Linked DNA regions of Homo sapiens. The protein of the gene in region 3 interacts with the protein of the main gene of each other region in a biochemical or structural test. Each region holds a gene or a part of one and is shown on either strand. Other genes may lie near its edges.

Evidence for each region.
Region 1: the proteins of LEPR (region 3) and PTPN11 form a complex in vitro, tested with the Homo sapiens proteins (one study listed by BioGRID).
Region 2: of the proteins of LEPR (region 3) and PTPRC, one has a biochemical effect on the other in vitro, tested with the Homo sapiens proteins (one large-scale study listed by IntAct).

The regions. Positions count from the first base shown.
Region 1 is NC_000012.12:112,488,447-112,491,946, reverse strand, and holds part of PTPN11 (tyrosine-protein phosphatase non-receptor type 11), read right to left. Parts: coding exon 3,437-3,500; intron 2,924-3,436; coding exon 2,772-2,923; intron 2,764-2,771; exon of another isoform or gene 1,959-2,763; intron 930-1,958; exon of another isoform or gene 523-929; intron 1-522. UniProt on the Homo sapiens protein: Acts downstream of various receptor and cytoplasmic protein tyrosine kinases to participate in the signal transduction from the cell surface to the nucleus. Positively regulates MAPK signal transduction pathway. Dephosphorylates GAB1, ARHGAP35 and EGFR.
Region 2 is NC_000001.11:198,712,040-198,715,539, forward strand, and holds part of PTPRC (receptor-type tyrosine-protein phosphatase C isoform 1 precursor), read left to right. Parts: intron 1-913; coding exon 914-1,033; intron 1,034-3,500. UniProt on the Homo sapiens protein: Protein tyrosine-protein phosphatase required for T-cell activation through the antigen receptor. Acts as a positive regulator of T-cell coactivation upon binding to DPP4.
Region 3 is NC_000001.11:65,602,168-65,605,667, forward strand, and holds part of LEPR (leptin receptor isoform 1 precursor), read left to right. Parts: intron 1-2,870; coding exon 2,871-3,070; intron 3,071-3,500. UniProt on the Homo sapiens protein: Receptor for hormone LEP/leptin. On ligand binding, mediates LEP central and peripheral effects through the activation of different signaling pathways such as JAK2/STAT3 and MAPK cascade/FOS.

The DNA.
Region 1 (3,500 bases), on a different chromosome or scaffold from region 3:
TCACTTGAGCCCAGGAGTTCAAGGCCAGCCGGGGCAACACGGCGAAGCTCCATCTCTACAAAAAATACAAAACTTAGCCAGGCATGGTGGTGCACACCTGTGGTCTCCAGCTACTCGAGAGGCTGAGGTGGGAGGATCACCTGAGCCCAAGGAGGTCAAGGCTGCCGTGAGCCATAATTGCACCACTGCACTCCAACCTGGGCAACAAAGTGAGACCCTGTCTCAAAAAAAGAGAAAAAAGATACATTATAGCCAAATGCACTGTGTGACCCTGGACCCATAAAAGATACTAGCAGGACAAAATTTGAAGATGGTCTGTAGGTTAGATAATAGTGTTATATCAATGTTAGTTTCCTGATTTTGATCACTGTATCAAATAATTGTGACATTGGTTATGTAAGAGAATGCCCTTATTTTTAGAAAATATACACATTTTAGAATGTGTAGGCTTAGATTATTCATTTTTTAAAATGAAATGATATTTAGAGACAAAGGGGTATAAATGTTTGTAACCAACAAACATTTTACTTTTTAAAATTTACATTTTTAATTTTAAACAGAGAGAATAAACGAATGATAAAGTTAAGTGTGCTAAAAAGTTAACAGTCAGGAAAGCTGGGTAAAGAAAATTCCACAGACTGCTTTTGCAAATTTGAGGGTTTTTTTTTTTTTTTCACTACTGTAGTTGGAAGTTAACAAAAAAGTCTACCTCCAAGGAACTGGCAGAGTGTGAGAACTGTTTATAAAAACTTGAGAATTTTCTCAATCTTGCTTCGTTTGCACTTTCCCCTGGATTCCCACATCTGATTTTATATTCTTCCTTCCTTGTGCTGTTTCTTCTCTTCCTTCTCCACAGCTCTTCACCCATCATTCCTTTTTTTCACTGATCCTTCTTTAGCAAATTCTTTCACTCCCAAAGGTCCTGAACACTTCATAATTTTAGAAATGACTGTATTTTAGAATAACCAATTATCCTGAATGAGTTTTGTTCTTTTGCTTCATTTATAAATCAGCTGGGTTTAATGTTATGTCTGCCATTTAAACTTTCTACTAAATTAAGTACTTCTTACTTTACCACAATCAGCCAGCAAGCCAGTTCCCAGATTGATTCAAACCACACAACGCAGAAAACTATATATTGCAGGATTTCATTTTTTAAAATAAATAATTGAAGCCTACACATTTTTAAAACCCAGAGGTCACTGGGCTCAGTGGCTCACACTTGTAATCCCAGCACTTTGGAAACCCAAAGTGGGAGGGTTGTTTGAGCCCAGGAGTTCAAGACTAGCCTGGGCAACACAGTGAGACCTTGTCTCTACAAAATAAAGATAAAAAAATTAGCCGGGCATGGAGCCACAAATTTGTAGTCCTAACTACTCAGAGAGGCTGAGGCAGAAGCACTGCTTGAGCCTAGGAATTCGAGACTAGCCTGGGCAACATGGCGAAACTGTGACACTACAAAAAATGCGAAAATTAGCTAGGTGTGGTGGCGCATGCCTATAGTCCCAGCTACTTGGGAGGCTGAGGTGGGAGGATCGCTTAAGCCTGGGAGATTGAGGCTGCAGTGAGCCATGATTACACCACTGCACTCCAGCCTGGGCAACAGAGAGAGACCTCTCTCTCAAAAAAAAAAAAAAAAAAAGACATCCCTGAACATGCTCCAACTTGTAGCAACTATGTTACATTCTCTTTGTATTTACTAGGAGATCCTTCTCTTTGGGCAACTTTTTGCCTAACTATTCTTGAGCCAAATTAAGTATAATGGAAGACAGATATAAAATAAAGTAACCGTCTAAATATTTCATATCAGTTAATACAAATTCAGATTTAAAGCACTGAGGTTCAAATTTTGACCTTACATTTCTATACATACACTGTTTCTGAAGATGTCTATGTACAATAAAACAATCCCGTATGTCTGTGCGGACTGAAAACCTACTAAACTAATTAGCAAGTACCTTCCTTTGGCCAACCAAACTTTGATAACGTGGCTGCTGTTCTGCTAGGCTAGAAATCTTTCAAATACTGGTGGCAGGTCCCATTCTGAAAAGAGCTCAGCATTTGGAGAAGCTGAGTTCTCTGGAAGGCAACGAGCAGAGTAATGCAGGCACTCGCCACTGATGTTTAGACACCACCCCATCTGCAGCATGGCAATGGGGTTGAGGGGTTGGGGAGAGAAGCACAGCCCCCAAAAGAGCAGCTCTCCTCATTTCCTTCATCTCAGCATATTCCTAATTAACTCAGCTTTGTGCCTGTTATGAATAGCTTCAGATGGAAAGGCTCCAATTCCACATTCCTCTTCATTATGCACAGCTTATTAAAATTGAAATTTCACTGTTTCCAACTCGACCAAATTAGTGGTTCAAACTGCCGTGCGCTATTAAGAGTGAGGCATTCGTTTTAAAGGATGGAATCAGGATAAACATGGCCTGGATCAAGGCTGGAACAGGCTAGAAACTTCAAGGCTTTGAGTTTTACGCTTGCCACATGAGCCTGAGAACATCAGAACCTTTCTGCATGGCAGTTCTTCAATCTGGCAGGCCAGGCTGATAGGATGGTGCCCTTCCCTAAGCTCCTCTGCAGTGAAAAATCAGAGCTGAGAAGTGGAGAATAATTGACAGTTTCCAGAGGCCCTTTTAGTTGGGAGTTTGTTTCCCATTCCGAAATCAAACAGTTGTCTATCAGAGCCTGTCCTCCTGCTCAAAAGGAGAGCGTATCCAAGAGGCCTAGCAAGAGAATGAGAATCCGCATGCCAGCCCTCAGGCTGGTACCTGCTCTTCTTCAATCCTGCGCTGTAGTGTTTCAATATAATGCTGGACCGCCATATAGATAAATCGGTACTGTGCTTCTGTCTGGACCATCCCTGACCTCTGAGACCGCACCATCTGGATGGTTTTGGGAACGTCAATATCGCAGTCAACACCTACGAAGGAAACATCATGAAGAATAAAGAGAAACTGCAGAGCCAGGATGAAGTTGTTTAATGCACAACTTTTAGTGGACTCAGAGACAATGCTAATTTAGTCTTTGCTGTTTTAACTGAGCATGTTGCAATGGCTACAGTGTTGAACTTCTGACCAATACCAATGATCCCAGAAGACTACATAAATAACGAAGTGGCAGAAGTCAGGATTCCCTCACTTGCCAACAAATCACCCCATACTGTAAACAAGGTCAGGTGGCTGGATAGAGACCACCACTGTGTATGCAACAAAAGGCCATGGCAGTGGGTTCTGCAGCTCCTAGACTTCATTTTATGCCAAAAGCTCAAATAGTGTCACTTCTGTTCTCAGGCAGACACACTGAAGTCTTCAGCCCAGATTTTTGTGAAAGAATTTTCCCATTCAACCTCTCTTCCCCAGACTGTTTTCGTGAGCACTTTCCTTCCATAAACTAAAAACAGAAACTGTCGCTTCTTGCCCACCAGATGACCCACCTTTCTCTCTGATGATGTCAATAAGAATATCAATCACAATGAACGTCCCTGTCCGGCCAATTCC
Region 2 (3,500 bases), about 130 Mb from region 3:
TGACAAAGCAGATGCATTCATAGTAGCCAAAACCTGGAAACAGCCCAAATGTGTATTCACTGTTGAATCCTAGGTAAAATGTGGTGTATCTTTACAATAACTACTGATAATTTTTTAAAATTCTAACTATGACACATGCAACTAAGTGAATGAATCTTCAGAACATTACATTGAGTGCAATATGTTAGGAGTGAAAAAGTACTTACTGTTTGTTTCATTTTATTTACATGCAATGGGTAAAAAGACAAACTTAATCTGTAGTTAACAGAAAGTTGATCAGAAGGTACGTGAGTCTGGTCAAAGGAGCTGAGTTGACTGGGAAGTACCACAGAAGGACATTTTGGGATCACAGAAATTTTCTTTATCTTGATTGTGGTGTTGGTTATGTGGATGTATACATTTGTTAAAAATGCATTAAACTGTATCTCAAATGGGTACATTTTAATGTAAATTTTACTTCAGACATTTTATTTAAACATTTATCAGTTTTTCTCAGTTTCAAATGACTAGTTACTGGAAGCAATGACAAGTGCTACTCAATGACTGCTAAATTTATTGGTGCTATGAATGCCAGATTTTTAGCACAGCAAAATCTACAAATTCCAGGATTTTTAGGTAGTATCTGGGCAAGAATATATATGAATAATGTATATGAAAGGAAGAGGGGGTTCTTAGATATCTTCAAGTCAGTGGAATGCTTAGGTTTCACAGTGCCAATCTGGTGTGACATTTACTTTGTTAAAGGAATTTACTCTAAAACAAATTAAATGAGCCCAGATGCATTTCTTTAAATTTTATTTTGAATTCATCATTTGTCAAAATATGGTTATCAATAATGCATGCTTATAATATGAAGAATGCTTTATCCATGTCTTATTTTTCATATTACATAACATTCTTATTCTTTTAACAGGTCCAGGAGAGCCTCAGATTATTTTTTGTAGAAGTGAAGCTGCACATCAAGGAGTAATTACCTGGAATCCCCCTCAAAGATCATTTCATAATTTTACCCTCTGTTATATAAAAGAGACAGGTAATTTGTGTAGAATTTAATTTCATCAGAAAAGAGAAATCAAGAATTTGAAAGTACTAGAAATTTTTATTGAGCCAGTGAGTCACAAAGCTCTCTGCTTAGAGACTGCATAGGCATAGTATACTCCCTGATCTTAGAATTGCTTCCACTCATTCAAAGCTTTCCAGCCCCAGAAATGACTAAAATCCAGAACATTCTAAATATTTGCTTGTCCTTCTTGGTCTTAGTTTAAATCTTTGTGCTCCAAAGCCTAGAGACAGAAAACCTCTGGATGACAACACTCATTTCTGTCTTGCAAGTATTATGTAAGTGATTTGACTCACTTTGAACTCATCATTCAGCCTCCTAAACAAACCAACAAACAAGCAAACCCCTTGTAAAACTTGTTTCAGCTAATAATACAGACAAAATGTTGGGTGAATAAAAATGAACATGGGCCCATGTAGCCGCTGGGGCCAGTTTGGTGTAATCTTGGGAGCATAGTTCTAAGTTTAGAATTAGACTTCTGCAGAAGTAATGCAATTAAAAAAAAAAAGAAGAAGAAAGAAATGTGCTATGACTAGTTCACTCATGAAATGTTCAAATGAGATGCTATTTAAGAGAACAAATATCTTCTGGACAATTTAAAGTATCTAAATTGTTTGTAGAAAGTAACATCAGTGGAGTATCTCAGAGCAGCCTCAATGCCTGGGATAGCCCTTTCTCTATTCTTTTATCCATAGGTTAAAATAGGAATGAAGTGAACCTCATAGAATTCTGTCACTCTGTGCTGTGGGGAAGGAACCAGACATACACTTCAAAACTTGAAAAGTGAAAGGCTATTTTTCTTCATTATGTTATTTTATATTTTAATGGCCTTTTCTTGCTAGTGTCTTTAGGTCTTAATAATCAGACTACTAAAGCAAAGTTAAATATGCATGTAGTTTTCAAATTAACATTCAAAGGCCAAGGAAAATAAATATATACTATATATTTGAGGTTATGATAAATTTAAAAGTTAAGTCTATGTGGAAGGAAAAATGGAAATTCCAGGAAGATAAAACAGCAGAGGTACTGTCTGCCTCATTGGACACCTCTTTTACAAACACTTTGTGTAGCTTCTATGGGAACACATTGTTCATTTTTTTTTTCTCTTCTCTGAATCTTCTATTCACTATCCCTTTCTGCATTCCTCAATGTCTACACTCTCTCTACTAGAGAGTATTGTCGATGTCAGAGTATATGGTAGACATTTTATGCATTTATGGCTCTTTTATATTTTTACAGTTTTTTTAAACTGTATTTCCACTGTATTTGCATAATTAGGGTAAAAAGGATGTAATGAGTTAGTAGCAACTCATTACAGCAACTAGCATGGGTCCTTCTTATTGGGCAACTAAATAGTGTTACCCAAATTTAACAGCTGTCCACATAGAACACTTAAACGGGATTGAATGGCTGAGAAGGGGAGGCTAGCTATCAGGCTGTGTGTTTTCTTTTCTCCAAAGCTGCCGATTGGTGACTGAATGCAGCTTTGGACCATGCCCTGACACTGCATAAAGGGCTCTTTGGAGCCAGCTCTACTCTAAACAGCGTGCTCCGCTTTTGTTTTCTCCTTCATCTCAAACATATACCTGTCTCCTCTCCCATGTTACCTAAGGCAAAGAGAGTTGATAGGATTATAGTATCGTTAAGGCAACTTAACTTTTCTCACCATTTTAAATAAAATTACTATTAAAAATCCACAGGAAGAAAGTCTATGAAATTTGCAGTTTACTTTTTAATCAGATATTAAATTTCACTTCATTACTTCACAATTTAATTTTTTCAGTGTCTCTAAAAGAGAGGGATTAAAAGAGGAGAAAAAATGCAATTGACATTAATTTAGTTTTATTGGTTTAGCAGGTTTTTTTAATTATGTATTATTTAAAGATTTTATCAACTATTTTAATAACTCAGTGGAGATGTGCATACATATCTTCATAGTTCATATGATGAAACTGAGGTTAACAGAAAATGTGATAGATGTTCAAGTTCAGTAGCTTGATCTGTTTCCTTTCTGCTCTTGGTTTTGTTTGTTTGTTTGTTTGAGAGGGAGTCTCCCTCTGTCGCCCAGGCTGGAGTGCAGTCATGCGATCTCGGCTCACTGCAAGCTCCGCCTCCCAGGTTCACGCCATTCTCCCGCCTCAGCCTCCCTAGTAGCTGGGACTACAGGCGCCCGCCACCACGCCCGGCTAATTTTTTTGTATTTTTAGTAGAGACGGGGTTTCACTGTGTTAGCCAGGATAGTCTGGATCTCCTGATCTCGTGTGATCCGATCCGCCCGCCTCGGCCTCCCAAAGTGTGTTTGTTTATTTTTCCTCACATTTTTAGCTTAAGATATTTTGGAGAACTGCAGTTTTATCTCGTTAACTTAATGATGGCAAGTGACAGTGAAGCTTCTTGGTAATTGGGGAATTGGGGAAGAGATCTTTTGTGCTTTATTGGA
Region 3 (3,500 bases):
TTTTACTTCAAATTATCTTTTCTGAAAATCAATCAATTCTGAAAAATTTGTATTTTAACTCTTGAATGAAATGCAAGAAAATGTAGTTTATATATATTTTAATTTGACTTAGTTGACTAGAGGAGAATGTGAAAGATTATAAAAGTTTCGTATCATTTGGCTAAAGATTAATGTTTTGGAAAAAAGAGGTAAAAACAGATTATAAGAGATAATATGAATGGTTTTTAGAACTGAGTGAGATTACTTAGGAAATAAATACTTATGGTTAATAAAGGGTAATGTGTTCTAATGAGAAGTAATTTGTGCTTGTTTATTTTTACTCTTCTATGTTTTAAAAAGAATTCAAGGCATCGTCTTATAGTGGTCCCTTTCTTTCTAAAATCATTTTATCTAAAATGATACAACCCTTGATTATATAATAGATTTTTATTTTTAAAAATATCCCATAGTAGTAGTCAAGTAAATATATACTGCTGTTAAACACTGTGTCCCAATTTATATTTTTATTTGTAGTGGAGACTTTCAATTTGTATAACATGCTCATTTATTCTTAAAATATAAATTTTCAACTAGAAAAATAAATCCCTTCTCTCAAATACTGTGATCTGAAGTCTATTCCTAATGCTGCCAGTCTCTTCTTATGTAGCGTTAGGAAAAAAATGTGGCAATTCGTACATTTCTCAAATAGCTGCCTTCATCCTACCTAATATGAGTATTTTAAAATCAGTAGAATTGTTCATGATATGAAATTTTACTTTTATAATCTGTCTTTACATTCTTTTCATGGCATTTTCACATTAGAAAAGGTGTTTATGGAAAACTATTATGTTAAGCCCCATGCCTTGTTTCTCTTATTAACATTTACAGAATAACTATGAAACTACATTTACTTGGGTGAGTTTCTTAACTTCCCTAAGCCTCAATTTCCTTGTCTGTAAAACAGAGAGAATAATAGGACTTACAGTGTTTCTGCGAGAGTTAATGACATATTTCATCTAATTATAATCACATGGTATAATTTCTCCTTGTAAATATTCAATATATGGTTTTTGCTGTCATGATAATGATGCCAACTTTTCGATTTCAAGTGTACTAGTACTGTGCTTCTACTTTGTTCTTATTTTCTACCCCCAGATGACCCCTCACTCCTCATTTTCATTTTTGCCCACGCACCACCATTTATTCACACACACACACACACACACATTCATGATTGTAATTTTGAGAAGACAAGAAAAAGAAGTGGTATAGAAAATAGAAAATGACAGAAGAATATAGATTTTTTAGCTTCTTCTAACTTCCTCACTCCCATCTCTTTGGAAAGAGTAATTGCTACTTCAGCTATTTAAATATAGTATTCAGAGCAAACATTGGCCCAAGAGGTTATTTCAAAGAAGAGGAAAAAGACTTTATGTCAAGTTTGTCCAACCCATGGCCTGGGGCCCCCATGTGGACTAGGATAGCTTTGAATGCAGCCCAACACAAATTTATAAACTGTCTGAAAACATTAGGAGATTTTTTTTGCAACTGGTTTTTTTTTTTTTTTTTGATTCATCAGCTATCGTTAGTATATTTTATGTGTGGCCCAAGACAGTTCTTCTTCCAGTGTGGCCTAGGGAAGCCAAAAGATTGGACACCCCTGCTTTATGGGTTCTGAGGTGGAGTGTTGGCTAGGACTCACTTATAAAATTTTTTTTAAATTTTCTTTTCTGAGAAAATGAGGAATATACATGGTTATATAATTCACATACATATCTGAAATTGGTATTATATTAACTTATATTAATTTGAACTAGAAAATTATATTCACCACTCATTTGTGGTGAAATTTAATTCTTTCTTCAAAGTGTGAGGAATTTGCCTTCCTTGCCATCTCAGGAATGCTCCATGACTACTTTCATCTATATTTTAAATATTCTATCACTAATACATAATGTTTGTTTAATTTTCAAATTATTGTAGGTTCTGTCTCTAACTGGATCATTTTCTTCTTTTTAGAGTATTTATTTCATTTGCATCCCTGCTTAGTGTCTAATGAAATATTTAATAAGAGTTACTGTCAGTTTCTGTGGAAAGATATAGAATTGGGAAAAATTAAAAAATGCCTTTCTAATAAGAATGTCTTTTTTTAGATGGAGTGAAATTGTCTGTATTTTATTTATTTTAATTTAATTTAATTTAATTTTATTTTGTTTTTGAGACAGTCTCCCTCTGTCGCCCAGGCTGCAGTGCAGTGGTACCATCTCCGTTCACTGCAACCTCCGCCTCCCCAGTTCAAGCGATTCTCCTGCCTCAGCCTCCCTAGTAGCCAGGACTACAGATGTGCATTTGTAGAGACAGGGTTTCCCCATGTTGCCCAGGCTGGTCTGGAACTCCTGGGCTCAAGTGATCAGCCCGCCTCAGCCTCCCAAAGTGCTGGGATTACAGGCATGAGCCACCGCACCGGGCCTTCTGCCTGTCTTTTAAACTTGGGGTCCCCAGTCCCTGGGCCACGGACCGGTACCTGTCTGTGGCCTCTTAGGAACCCGGCCACAAAGCGGGAGGTGAGAGAGCAGCATTACCACCTGCGCTCCACCTCCTGTCAGATCAGCGCAGCATTAGATTCTTAGAGGAGCAGAACCCTATTGTGAACTGGGCATGCGCTCCTCATGAGAATCTAATGCCTGGTGATCTGAAGTGGAACAGTTTCATCCCGAAATCCTGAACCATCTCCCATCCCCCATTAGTGGAAAAATTGTCTTCCATGAAACCGGTCCCTGGTGCCAAAAAGGTTGGGGACTGCTGTTTTAAACAACAAATCAGAATTCTCAGATATCTTCTTGTTGCTTTTATTAATGTATACTAATTGACTATTTTTGTATCTTTTAAAGGAGCAGCCTTTACTGTTCTGATATTCCATCTATTCATCCCATATCTGAGCCCAAAGATTGCTATTTGCAGAGTGATGGTTTTTATGAATGCATTTTCCAGCCAATCTTCCTATTATCTGGCTACACAATGTGGATTAGGATCAATCACTCTCTAGGTTCACTTGACTCTCCACCAACATGTGTCCTTCCTGATTCTGTGGGTATGTCAAGCTGCGTTGTGTCTTCATTTGTGTTAGCAGATTTGTATGCAGATTGATGCAGATTTAATGTTATATTTTGCCATTTTCTGATCACATTAGATTTTGAAAAAAAAATTGTTCCTGTTTACAGTGGTATTGAGAAAATCAGCCTTAGGAAGTTTTACAGTTTTGAATTCATTTCAAATTATTTATAGCAGACTTTTTTTAGCAATAGGAATATTTTCTGCACACTATTAGATGAAATACATGGGTCATTATGAATGAATTTTAGTAGTGTTTTTCTAAATAAGGCATTATTTTATGTTTTTGTTCCAATGTAGTTATGAAAACATGTAATATTTGTAATCCAAACGTTTAATTTGAATATTCTGAGGTTCTCAATAATCTGAGTACTCATAACTCAAGCCTTTAATTTGTGAGGCTATGTAGG